Homo sapiens: one gene and its partners. The gene in region 3 interacts genetically with the main gene of each other region. Each region holds a gene or a part of one and is shown on either strand. Other genes may lie near its edges.

What was found.
Region 1: changes in TUBGCP3 (region 3) and LIAS together harm fitness less than expected from each alone (positive genetic interaction), as found in Homo sapiens cells (one large-scale study listed by BioGRID).
Region 2: changes in TUBGCP3 (region 3) and XRN2 together harm fitness more than expected from each alone (negative genetic interaction), as found in Homo sapiens cells (one large-scale study listed by BioGRID).

What each region holds. Positions count from the first base shown.
Region 1 is NC_000004.12:39,465,485-39,469,139, reverse strand, and holds part of LIAS (lipoyl synthase, mitochondrial isoform 1 precursor), read right to left. Parts: intron 1,623-3,655; coding exon 1,494-1,622; intron 1-1,493. UniProt on the Homo sapiens protein: Catalyzes the radical-mediated insertion of two sulfur atoms into the C-6 and C-8 positions of the octanoyl moiety bound to the lipoyl domains of lipoate-dependent enzymes, thereby converting the octanoylated domains into lipoylated derivatives.
Region 2 is NC_000020.11:21,341,210-21,344,864, forward strand, and holds part of XRN2 (5'-3' exoribonuclease 2), read left to right. Parts: intron 1-2,880; coding exon 2,881-2,999; intron 3,000-3,655. UniProt on the Homo sapiens protein: Possesses 5'->3' exoribonuclease activity. May promote the termination of transcription by RNA polymerase II.
Region 3 is NC_000013.11:112,550,053-112,553,707, forward strand, and holds part of TUBGCP3 (gamma-tubulin complex component 3), read right to left. Parts: intron 1-3,655. UniProt on the Homo sapiens protein: Component of the gamma-tubulin ring complex (gTuRC) which mediates microtubule nucleation.

The DNA of each region.
Region 1 (3,655 bases), on a different chromosome or scaffold from region 3:
AGATCATATGTAGAAGCTAATAAAATCACTGCTAAATGCTAAAATTAAAGAAAAAAATGATATTACTCTTGCCCGAAGCTTAAAATGTTCATTTTTCTAAAATTTGAATGGATGTGGATAACAATCCTTACTTTTTTTCTTACATCAGTGTTACTTGCCAATGATTAGTCTTAATTACTGAAATTATTAGGAATAAGAAAGCATAGTGTCTACTTTTTTTAAAAAGTACATCTGAATGATATGAGTTTTTTTCTTTTTTTTTTTTTTTGAGACAAAGTTTTGCTGTCGCCCAGGATGGAGTACCATGGCACTATCTCGGCTCACCGCAACCTTCGCCTCCCGGGTTCAAGCAATTCTCCTGCCTCAGCCTCCAGAGTAGCTGGAATTACAGGTCTGCACCTAGCTAAAATTTTTTGTATATTTAGTAGAGATGGGGTTTCATCATGTTGGCCAGACTGGTCTTGAACTCCCAACCTCAGGTAATCCGCCCGCCTCGGCCTCCCAAAGTGCTAGGATTATAGGCGTGAGCCACGAGTTTTTCTTCTGCATCATTTATTACACATATTAGTGCTGAATATATATATATAAATATATATGAATATATATAATATAAAAAAATATATATATATATATATATTTTTTTTTTCCTTTCTCTTTCTAGATGGAGTTTCGCTCTTTTTGCCCAAGCTGGAGTGCAATGGCGCAATCTCACCTCACTGCAACCTCCGCCTCCCGAGTTCAAGTGATTCTTCTCCTGCTTCAGCCTACCGAGTAGCTGGGATTACAGGCATGTGCCACCACGCCTGGCTATCTTGTATTTTTAGTAGAGACGGGGTTTCTCCATGTTGGTCAGGCTGGTCTCGAACTCCCAACCTCAGGTAATCTGCCTGCCTCTGCCTCCCAAAGTGCTGAGATTACAGGCGTGAGCCACAGCATCCAGCCAAATATATTTTTGAAGTCTTTTCTTTAGAATTACAACCAAAGCAATTGCTCTAGTGTAATTTTTTCCCTCCTTTGAAAACTTTATTTGTGGGGAGGGGGAAACAAACAACTTATTGAAATTTGCAGTATGATATTATTTTAAAACAAAAGAAAAAAGATGTTAATTATTTGTGGGTATTAAAACACACACAGTAACTTAGTAATATGAGTTACTAACATCTTAATGTTTGTAATATAAAAATTAAGTATATTATAAATATAAAAATACAAATATGTAGTATAAATATAGTGTTTATAATATAAACACTAAGGTGTTAGTAACTGATATTGCTGGGTGGAAATACTATTATGGGTGATATTTATGCTGATTTTGTTGGTGATATTTTCTGATTTTTATGTAAGAGACATAGATTGAGTTTGCCTAAAAAACAAAAAAGAATAGAGTTTACTTTGTAAAAGTCAATGGCAAAGTTCAGCCCTGGAAAAGGCAAGAATATATGGCATATTTTGACCCGCCTAACTTCCCAACATTACTTTGTACACGTATTCACCTCTGTAATTCCGGGACTGTTTCTACATTATGTGCATACACATCTAATCCTGACAGAGCAACTTTTTCTATTGCTTTGAGATCACCTCGAAAATCAGGAGTAAGACACTCCACAAGGATTTTTGGATTCCTAAGGGGAAAAGAGAGAATTATCAAACAGAGAGAAAGAACTGACATACCTGTTCCTCAAAATAGAAATTATCAGTAATCGTTCAGTATGCTTCAACACAGTAACCTTTAGAACTTTGTCAAGAAAAGTATGAACATACAGATGTTCATACATGAACCATTATTAAAAAAAAAAAAGCAGACCGTTAAATACTATGTACACAGTGGTTAAAACACACCTGTAGGCAAACTGAATAAAATTTCAAATTATATATAGTAGACTTTTAAACCTAATTTAAGTAGGTTTTAGAAAAAGTAAATAATTGCAAGAAACTAAAATATGAAATATTAAAACATTAAATATAAAACTTTACTCATTGGAAAGTAAATTGAAGTATTTCTTATATAAATGTGAGTATTATTTGATTGCTTTAATTTTGATTTCTTTAAAAAGTCATCAAATCATGCTCTCCTCCCTTCCTCTAGGCAAATATTTCACAAGTGCTACGGGTTTTAAAAACTATTTTCTGGGTTGCTGAGTCATGAGCTTTGTTAAACGAAGTACGAGCTAAACATTAATCTTCCTATTTATATTGTGGCTATATCTATTCATCCAAGTATTATAATGTGAACTGGGTCACAGAGCTGTTCCCTTTGACACCAGCAAAAACGACTGAAACAGCTGACACATTTTTTCACAAACCCACTGGCAAAGTGTCTGGAGTTGTTCCCTGAAAGAACAGATGTAGAAAAGACCACATGTACACCCTTATCATGAATATAAGAGATATTCAAAGAACATATCCTATAATTTTTTTTTTTTAAATAAAAACAGGGTCTTGCTCTGTTGCCCAGTGCATCATAGCTCACTGTAACTTTAAACTCCTGGGCTCACGCAATCCTTCTGCCTCAGCCTCCCAAGCAGGTAGGACTATGGGCACATGCTACCACATCCAGCTATTTTTTTTTTTTAATTTATTTTTTGTAGAGACAGCATCTCCCTATGTTGCCCAGGCTGGTCTTGAACGCCTGTCCTCAAGCAATCTTCCTGCTTTGGCCTCCCAAAGTGCTAGAACTACAGGCGTGAACCACTGTGCTTGGTTCTATTGCTTTTTTAAACTGAAAGCTGAGACCCACTGAAGCTTGTAAAATAAACCTAGTGGATTGCAAACAGATTTTTCAAAAATGAACTATAGTAAATAGAAAATAGAAAATACTAGGGAATCATTTAAAAAATTTACTAAGTGCGCTTAGGTGCCAAACTAGTACTGAGCTGTAGAAAATTAGAATAATCTCAGCACTTTGGGAGGGCGAGGCAGGAGTATTGGTTGAGGTCAGGAGTTTGAGACCAGCCTGGGGAACATAGCAAGATTCCGTCTCTAAAAAAAAATGTAAAAACATTAGCCAAGCGTGGTAGTGTACCTGTAGTCCCAGCTACTTGGGAGGCTGAGGCAGAAGGATTGCTTGAGCCCAGAAGTTTGAGGCTGCAGTGAGCTATGATCATCAGGCCGCTGCACTCCAGCCTAGATGACAAAGCAAGACTGTCTCTTAAAAGAAAAAACAAAACAAACCCAAAAAAACAGGCCGGGCGTGATGGCTCAGGCCTGTAATCCCGCACTTTGGTAGGCTCAGGTGGGTGGATCAATTGAGGTCAGGAGTTTGAGACCATCCTGGCCAACATGGTCAAACCCTATCTCTACTAAAAGTACAAAAATTAGCTGAGCTTGGTGGCGTGGGCCTCTAATCCCAGCTACTCGGGAGGCTGAGGCAGGATAAATGCTTGAACTGGGAGGCAGAGGTTGCAGTGAGATGGTGCCATGCACTCTAGCCTGGGCAAAAGAGCGAGACTCCATCTCAAAAAAAAAAAAAAATCATTACTAAGAAGACCAGGTTTATACTTTTTAAAGAAAATTATTCAAAGTTTAGACTAATGCTCTAATATGAGGGAGGGATTCTATGGGCTAAAGGTCTATGGGTAAGTTCATGTCACTGAGCCCCTAAAATTCTCTGCAAATATGTATCTGTACATACAAATATGCTTTTTCCAAAGAAATG
Region 2 (3,655 bases), on a different chromosome or scaffold from region 3:
ATGGTTCTAGAAGCTTGTCAAGGGACATCCATATGTCTCAAAGCTGAGGCAAGAGGAGGAGGATGGGTTTTATTCCCTTATTTCCCCTTTCCTTCAGTGGGCAGTTGTGAGCATTTTGCAAAATAGTATTCCTTAGGTGTAAACTCTGGCTCTCCAATTCAGCATGGAATAGATCTAAATAAATATCTTAAGGTAGCACTTACTGGTTACTCCCTGTTTGTGAACTCAGCAACTGCATGCATTTATTTGCCTTGTGGTATTCTTCCATATTTGAACTTGGTAATCCAAACTCCAGAAGCAAATCAACCTATCCTGCAAGGCTGTACTTTGTCCACCACCTTCCTATTGTAGTGGAAATAGACCATGAGCTCTCAGAATACCCAGTGGGACAGCAACAGGGCTGAGGGAACAGACCCTGATCTAACAGTAGAGGAAGGAACATACACTTTTGCTATGATATATCCAAGGAAATTGAATAAGCTTGGATATTTAATTTCTGTTATTCTGTTAGTTATCCTATTGATGCTCATATGGAACAGAAATAGCTGATGCCCATCATTCAAGATTTTAGTGACTACCATCCCCGCAGAGCAGAACTGAGAGTGACTGGTGGTGTTATATGCCCTGTTGATGGTAGAGTACTTTTTTTTTTAAATCTTGGGAGGCAGGCAGGTTTAAACTTTGCCAGCTGTGGTTGCTTCAGGAAGCATTCCAGTATTATCTTCAGGCCCGGTAGTATTAGGCCACAGGACCAGACTGTAGATCGATAACATCTGCCATAGGAGTAGTAATGGGGAGACTGGTGATGAGGTTGCTTCTTTGATTCTGTCTTAATTAACTTCCCTTGCCACAATTATTTCTATATAGAGGAGGTATGGAATTCGAATCTTTGCAGAGTGGGATTTTCACCTAGAATGTTCTAAATTTAAGGAAATTTTGAAGTCAAATTACCAGTTTATTTAAAGGGAGCCATTAAAGTTACAGATTTCTCGTGTTTTATTTTTCTGAGCTGTTGGGTTGTAGTCTCTAATACTTATCTACTGATGATTAACATTCTTAGTGTTTTATTAAATAGCTTCCATTTCCTTATATTTGTGGTTTTATATTTAGCGTTCTTCAGTGTGGTTTCATTATATCTAATTTGATGAAAAAAACAGCTTAAGAAGAAATTTGAATTTAATATGAATCTGGTATGTTCACAAGGGAATATTTTTGTTGGTAGAGACAGCAGCGGAGATTTAGCATTAAATGGTGAACAGCATTTTTTTCTAGAAAGTATATTATTATTTGTTTTCTAAAGATAGAGTTTATATCTTGTTAGTAATTAATTTTGTTAAAGTTTGCTTTTTACACAACTTCTCTGTAGACAGTTAATGGGAATGTCACTCTCATAATTTAATACAAATGGATTAGTGTAGGGTTGAAAAAACAATAGTGATTACTTACTGAATGGTTAACTACCATGTACCATGTAGGCAGCATGCCAGTAATCTTTCACATGTATTGATGCATTTAATCCTTGCAATAACTTGTAAGGAAACAGAACGTTATCATCCCCATTTTAAGATGAGGCTCACAGAGGTTAAGTAATAAATTGTTCAAGGCCACACAGCCAGTAAAGGTTGAATTTGGTATTTCAGACTCAGATCTGTATGACTAAAATACAACAATACCTGCCTCGTTTTCCAAGTACAACAGTGCCTTCCTGTATTTATTTTTATTGGGTTTTTTTTTGACAATATTGTCTGTACCTTTTCATTAATAACATTGACATTATGTTTTTAAAAGAGATGTGCTCTAAGTTCTATGTGAAATATGATTTCGTATTATTTTAACTTTTCTTGACCTGTGGTATGAACTGTGTTTATGCTGTGGATACTCTAATTATTATATCATTCAAATGGCCTTCTGTGCTCTCAGTTTAAAAAAAATTCAGTTTACTTGAAATAGCTAATATACTGTGAGTAACAGAAGAAAAACTTGACTGTGGAAATGTTTCTGCCCCTTATGTTTTTGGTGATGTGGTCCTTTAGCTTGAGTAACTAAAGTTGCAGAACATTTTCTTTTAATTTTTAAATATTAAAATATGTTAGGGTTATATTAAAATATGTTAATTAAAATTAACGTATTATGTTAATTGAGTTAGGTACAAAGGGAAGATAATACTGAATTTAAAGTGACAGCTAAGTCTTTGAAATACCAATAAAATCTGCATTTTTCTAAGATGACTAATAGATTTTTATTTGTTGATTGATTTTTAAAACTGAACATATAAAGTAATTTAAGTTATCTAACACAGTCTTATTAAACTTGCTTTTCAGAGTGGTTGTACTAGGTTGAAGACTTAACCATTTAGCTGCATTCTCACCAGCATTGACTATTTTATATATTATTACATCTATATTATTATATATTATATGCTATATATGTAATGCATTTTATATATCACATAATTTTTTCCCCTCATAGCTTTGCCATTTGGTAGGTGGCAAATGATTGTGAATTCCTAACAGGAATTGTTACAACTGATTGTCACAAATGATTGTGAACCACCAAAGGAAAATAAAATTCAAGTACTATAATTTTTAAAAATCTATAAAATTAAAACTTTTTTTTTCTTCAGAAACTTTTTTTTTTGCCCTAATAATGTTAATTGTTTTTAGTTTAAGCATAGAAAGTTTGGGTATTACATTACTTCTTTTGAGGGGAAGTGAAATGGAGCAAGATCAGTCTCTGTACCTTCTAAATATGTTTACCATCTCTATGTAGTAGCTTTAAAAATGTTACTGTGAAACATGGTAAGTAGTGGTGGTTGGATGTACCTTCTTATGTAAAATGAATAATGAAATCCTTCTTCTGTAATGTCATCATTGTCTGCAGAGTCCTTCGATATCTCCTAATACGAGTTTCACATCTGATGGCTCCCCGTCTCCATTAGGAGGAATTAAGCGAAAAGCAGAAGACAGTGACAGTGAACCTGAGCCAGAGGATAATGTCAGGTGAAGCCATTTTTTGGTAGCACTTTGTTAGCAAATTGCTGAAATAGATGCAGTCTAATTAATGCTATTTAGCTTAGAGCAGCAGTGCCTTCAGATGCTTGCCTGTGATCTTTTTATCCATCAGTAATTAATGTGGAGGGTTAGAATAGTCAGTAAATTCCAGTGAGATGTGTAAGCTGTAGCTGTTAAACCTAAGTGTCTAGATTAGTATGCGTGCAGGCTTTCGTCCTCCAATCCACTTTTCCCTCTGAGACCAGGCACAAGATCGGCTAGATATCATATCTAGGTGTTTAGCTCTGACTATGTGATCTGAATGTTGCTGTTTGGAGACTGATTAAATTTTCAAGCTGCTTAACCTAGAAAGTTCAGTTATACTTAGACACTTAATATAGTTTGCCTTAATCTTCTCTATTGAAAGAGTTCTTCCTCAAAATGAAATATGCAGAAATCATTCTGTTAAGAGATCAATATGTATGTTTTTTAAAAACCACAGACTTGCATATGCGCAATTATATTTCATGACAGAGGAGTTTCCCTTTAACTGTATACTTCAAATTTAAAATAGGAAGCTGATTCTTTAATTCATCCTGAAGTTTGAGATCATTATATAATAAGATTAACAACCTCTCATGTAATTAAATCCAGATTTGAACCGT
Region 3 (3,655 bases):
AAGCTAGAAGAGGCACCCTGATACACCTGCATCCAGTCCTGTGGCAAGAGCCTTCAGGGATGAGCTGTGGGATGTAACTCCAGGATGCCTGGGGGCAGCTCTGCTGTTCAAGGAGCCCACAGCAGAAGCAGCCTGCAAGGGATAAACCTGTGTTCTTTCTCATTCAGTTTTATCCAGCAAAACTCCATCAAAAAATTTTTTTTAATTGTTTTTTAAACTTGTTTTCTTTAAGTAAATATGTAGGTTGCATACCTTTCTGTATATTTTTAAAATATATCAGCAGTCACCTATAGGTGTATTTTACTGCATTTATGGTTTGTGGACTAAGACAAATGTGAACATTTTCAAGTATGAAAATGAACATAAAACATACTAATTTTGTAGACACAAAAGGACACGTCAAAAGTGAGGTGTGCAAGAAGAAACGTCCTAGAGTCTGGAATGAGACAGACCAGGGGGTAAAAATCCAGGGCTCCCGCTGGAGGTACCGCCACGTGTCAGCCCCTGACGGTATGAACCTCTAGGCTCATCTACAAAGGGAGGAAGAATAAATGCGGTAACGTAGGGCAAGCGCCTGGCACAGTGTGGGCACAAAGGTGCTTACTAAACCATAGGTCAGTTTTCTTAGGTAATATTTACAGAGAAAACGACATGGAATCTGCTCAGGCACAGCATCACTCTTTACCAAAACTCCATCCCAGCCCCAGGGCAGGAGAGCAGACACATAAACACATCAAAGCTTTGAAAAACCTGCTGAAATATGCGGCCAGGTGCGGTGGCTCACGCCTGTAATCTCATCACTTTGGGAGGCCAAGGCGGGCAGATCATGAGGTCAGGAGATTAAGACCATCCTGGCTAACACAGTGAAACCCCGTCTCTATTAAAAATACAAAAAAATTAGCCGGGCGTGGTGGTGGGTGCCTGTGGTTCCGGCTACTCGGGAGGCTGAGGAAGGAGAATGGCGTGAACATGGGAGGCGGAGCTTGCAGTGAGCCGAGATCGCGCCACTGCACTCCAGCCTGGGTGACAGAGCGAGACGACTCCGTCTCAAAAAAAAAACAAAAACAAAACCTGCTGAAATAATCAAATCATTATCCAACGTGTAGAATCTAAGTATTTATATACAGGTGTATGTGAGTCAGCTTCTGAGAAGTCTACAACCAAAAGAGTGGAAGTGCAGGCAGAGCGCGGCAGCGCCACACACACTCAGAGGGAAAAGGCCTGTGGTTAGCAGAGGCTGTTTCCACCTTGGTTCATTAAATGCACATGTAAGTTTCACACTTACAAAACAGTATCTTCATTCATATATGATTTTGCTCCATTTGGTATGTCTAGAGCCAGGACACCTCCAAGGCTAATTGTGGGCACTGGTAATACTGACACAGGACATAAATTATGCAAGGCATAAATTAGGGCACACGGTCACCCCACTGAGAGCACACGCTGGCTCTTCAAATAAGATAAATAAACCATCACTCCTTCAGCAACTGGATGGCACCAAGCAATGACTCCAAACAGCAGGAAATGGAAGAACAGAGACAGCTTTGGAACAGAGTGACACGTCACACCCTAGTCCATACCTGCCATCTACTAGTCAGGGCAACTTGGTCAAATCAATCAAACTTGCTGAGGTTCAATTCTCACATCTGCAAAATGGGGACAATTAATGCTTGCCCTGATCATTTTAGAAGGCTGCTATGATAATCGATAAGGAGAAAGAAGATAAAAGAAGAGCCTCTAAAGTCCAGTACTATAAACAGCAGTCCCCGACCTTTTTGGCACCAGGGACTGGTTTTGTGGAAGACATTTTTTCCACGGACCAGGGTGGGATGGGGGGGCAGAGTGGTTTTGGGATAAAACTGTTCCCACCTCAGATAATCAGACATTAGATTCTCATACGAAGCATGCAACCTAGATCCCTTGAATGCACGGTTCACAACAGGGATCACACTCCTATGAAACTAATGCCATCACTGATCTGACAGGAGGCAGAGCTCAGGCGGTCATGCCTGCTCGCCCTCCACTCACCTCCTGCCGTGCGGCCCAGTTCCTAACAGGCCATGAACCAGTACCGGTCCACAGTCCAGGAACTGGGGACCCCTGCTATAAAACATAATATGATACTACTATAGTGATGATCAATCCATCTCCTGGAATAAAATATCTACATAATGGTTTAGTTATCCTGTATTGATTTTGTGTGTGTGTTTTGCTTCATGTCTATCAAGTTGACTGGGACCTATCAGTGACACTTGCATAAGATGATGATATAAACCCAGACATGATAAAACACTCCCTTCGGGAAAAGGGACAGGGACTCTAAAATTACAGCTGGCTCCTGAGGGGACGGCCCACCAGTCCTACCTGCCTCGAGAAAGAGCCAGCTCACTCCTATCTGCCCTTGCAATGAGGGAGAGTGGTGGCTGGTCATCGAGCAATTCACTAGACTGGCAAACAGAACAGAAAACAGTACTAGACTGGGAAGCAGCATCTTTATACGCATTCTCTCCCCACCTTCACAATCCTAGAGGTAATCACTACCCCACTCTATGCAGGAAGAAACTTGTGGCCAACAGAAGATAACCTGGGCAAGATGACGTGACCATTACAGGAGAAGCCCAAACCAGAACCCTGGGCTGCCTCGCTTCAAAGCTCAAAGTGTGATGCCTACTCAGCAGCCACGCTGCCACAGCACACTCCTCCCCACCAGCCACGCTCCTCCCCACCAGCCACGCTCTTCCCCATCAGCCATGCTCCTACTCAGCAGCCACACTGCCACAGCACACTCCTCCCCACCAGCCACGCTCCTCCCCACCAGCCACGCTCTTCCCCATCAGCCATGCTCCTACTCAGCAGCCACGCTGCCACAGCACACTCCTCCCCACCAGCCATGCTCCTACTCACCAGCCACACTGCCACACTACTCGCCTACTCACCAGCCACACATTCTTACCCACCACCCACACTCCTCCTCACTAGCCACATTCCCAACCACCGGCCATGCTCCTACTCCCAGCCACGTTCTTACCCACCAGCCATGCTCCTCCCCACCAGCCACACTGCCACACCACATGCCTAATCACCAGCCATGTTCTTACCCACTAGCCACACTGCCACACCAAGTGCCTACTCACCAGCCACATTCTTACCCACCGGCCACGTTCCTGCCCACCAGCCACACTACAGCACCACACTCCTCCCCACCAGCCATGCTCTTCTCCATCAGTCACGCTCCTACTCACCAGCCACCCTCCTACCCACCAGCTACGCTGCCATAAGTCCTGTGCTACGCTGAGCTTATAGTACACAGTTGTTCTGTGATTCAATAATTTTTGGAGATTTCATTGGCAGTAATTACTGCCCAATAATCAACCTATGGACAAGACCACATGCTGCTTAGCCACAAAGAAGGGCTGGACAGTGGAGATGCCACGGCTCCTATTAGCTGCCCCCTGTCAGGCTCCAACAGGAGGAGAAGCAGCAGCAGCTCCCTCCCAACCATGCACTGTGCCATCGGCAGTGCCCACCCAGGGCTGTCCAGACAGCCATAGCCAGGATTCCCATCTCCAGCTTCGGCAGTGTTCCCAAATCCTGCCTCACCGTGCTGCCTGGGGAATCACGCAGCTGGGAGTGTCCCCTGTTGGCAGGCCCCGTC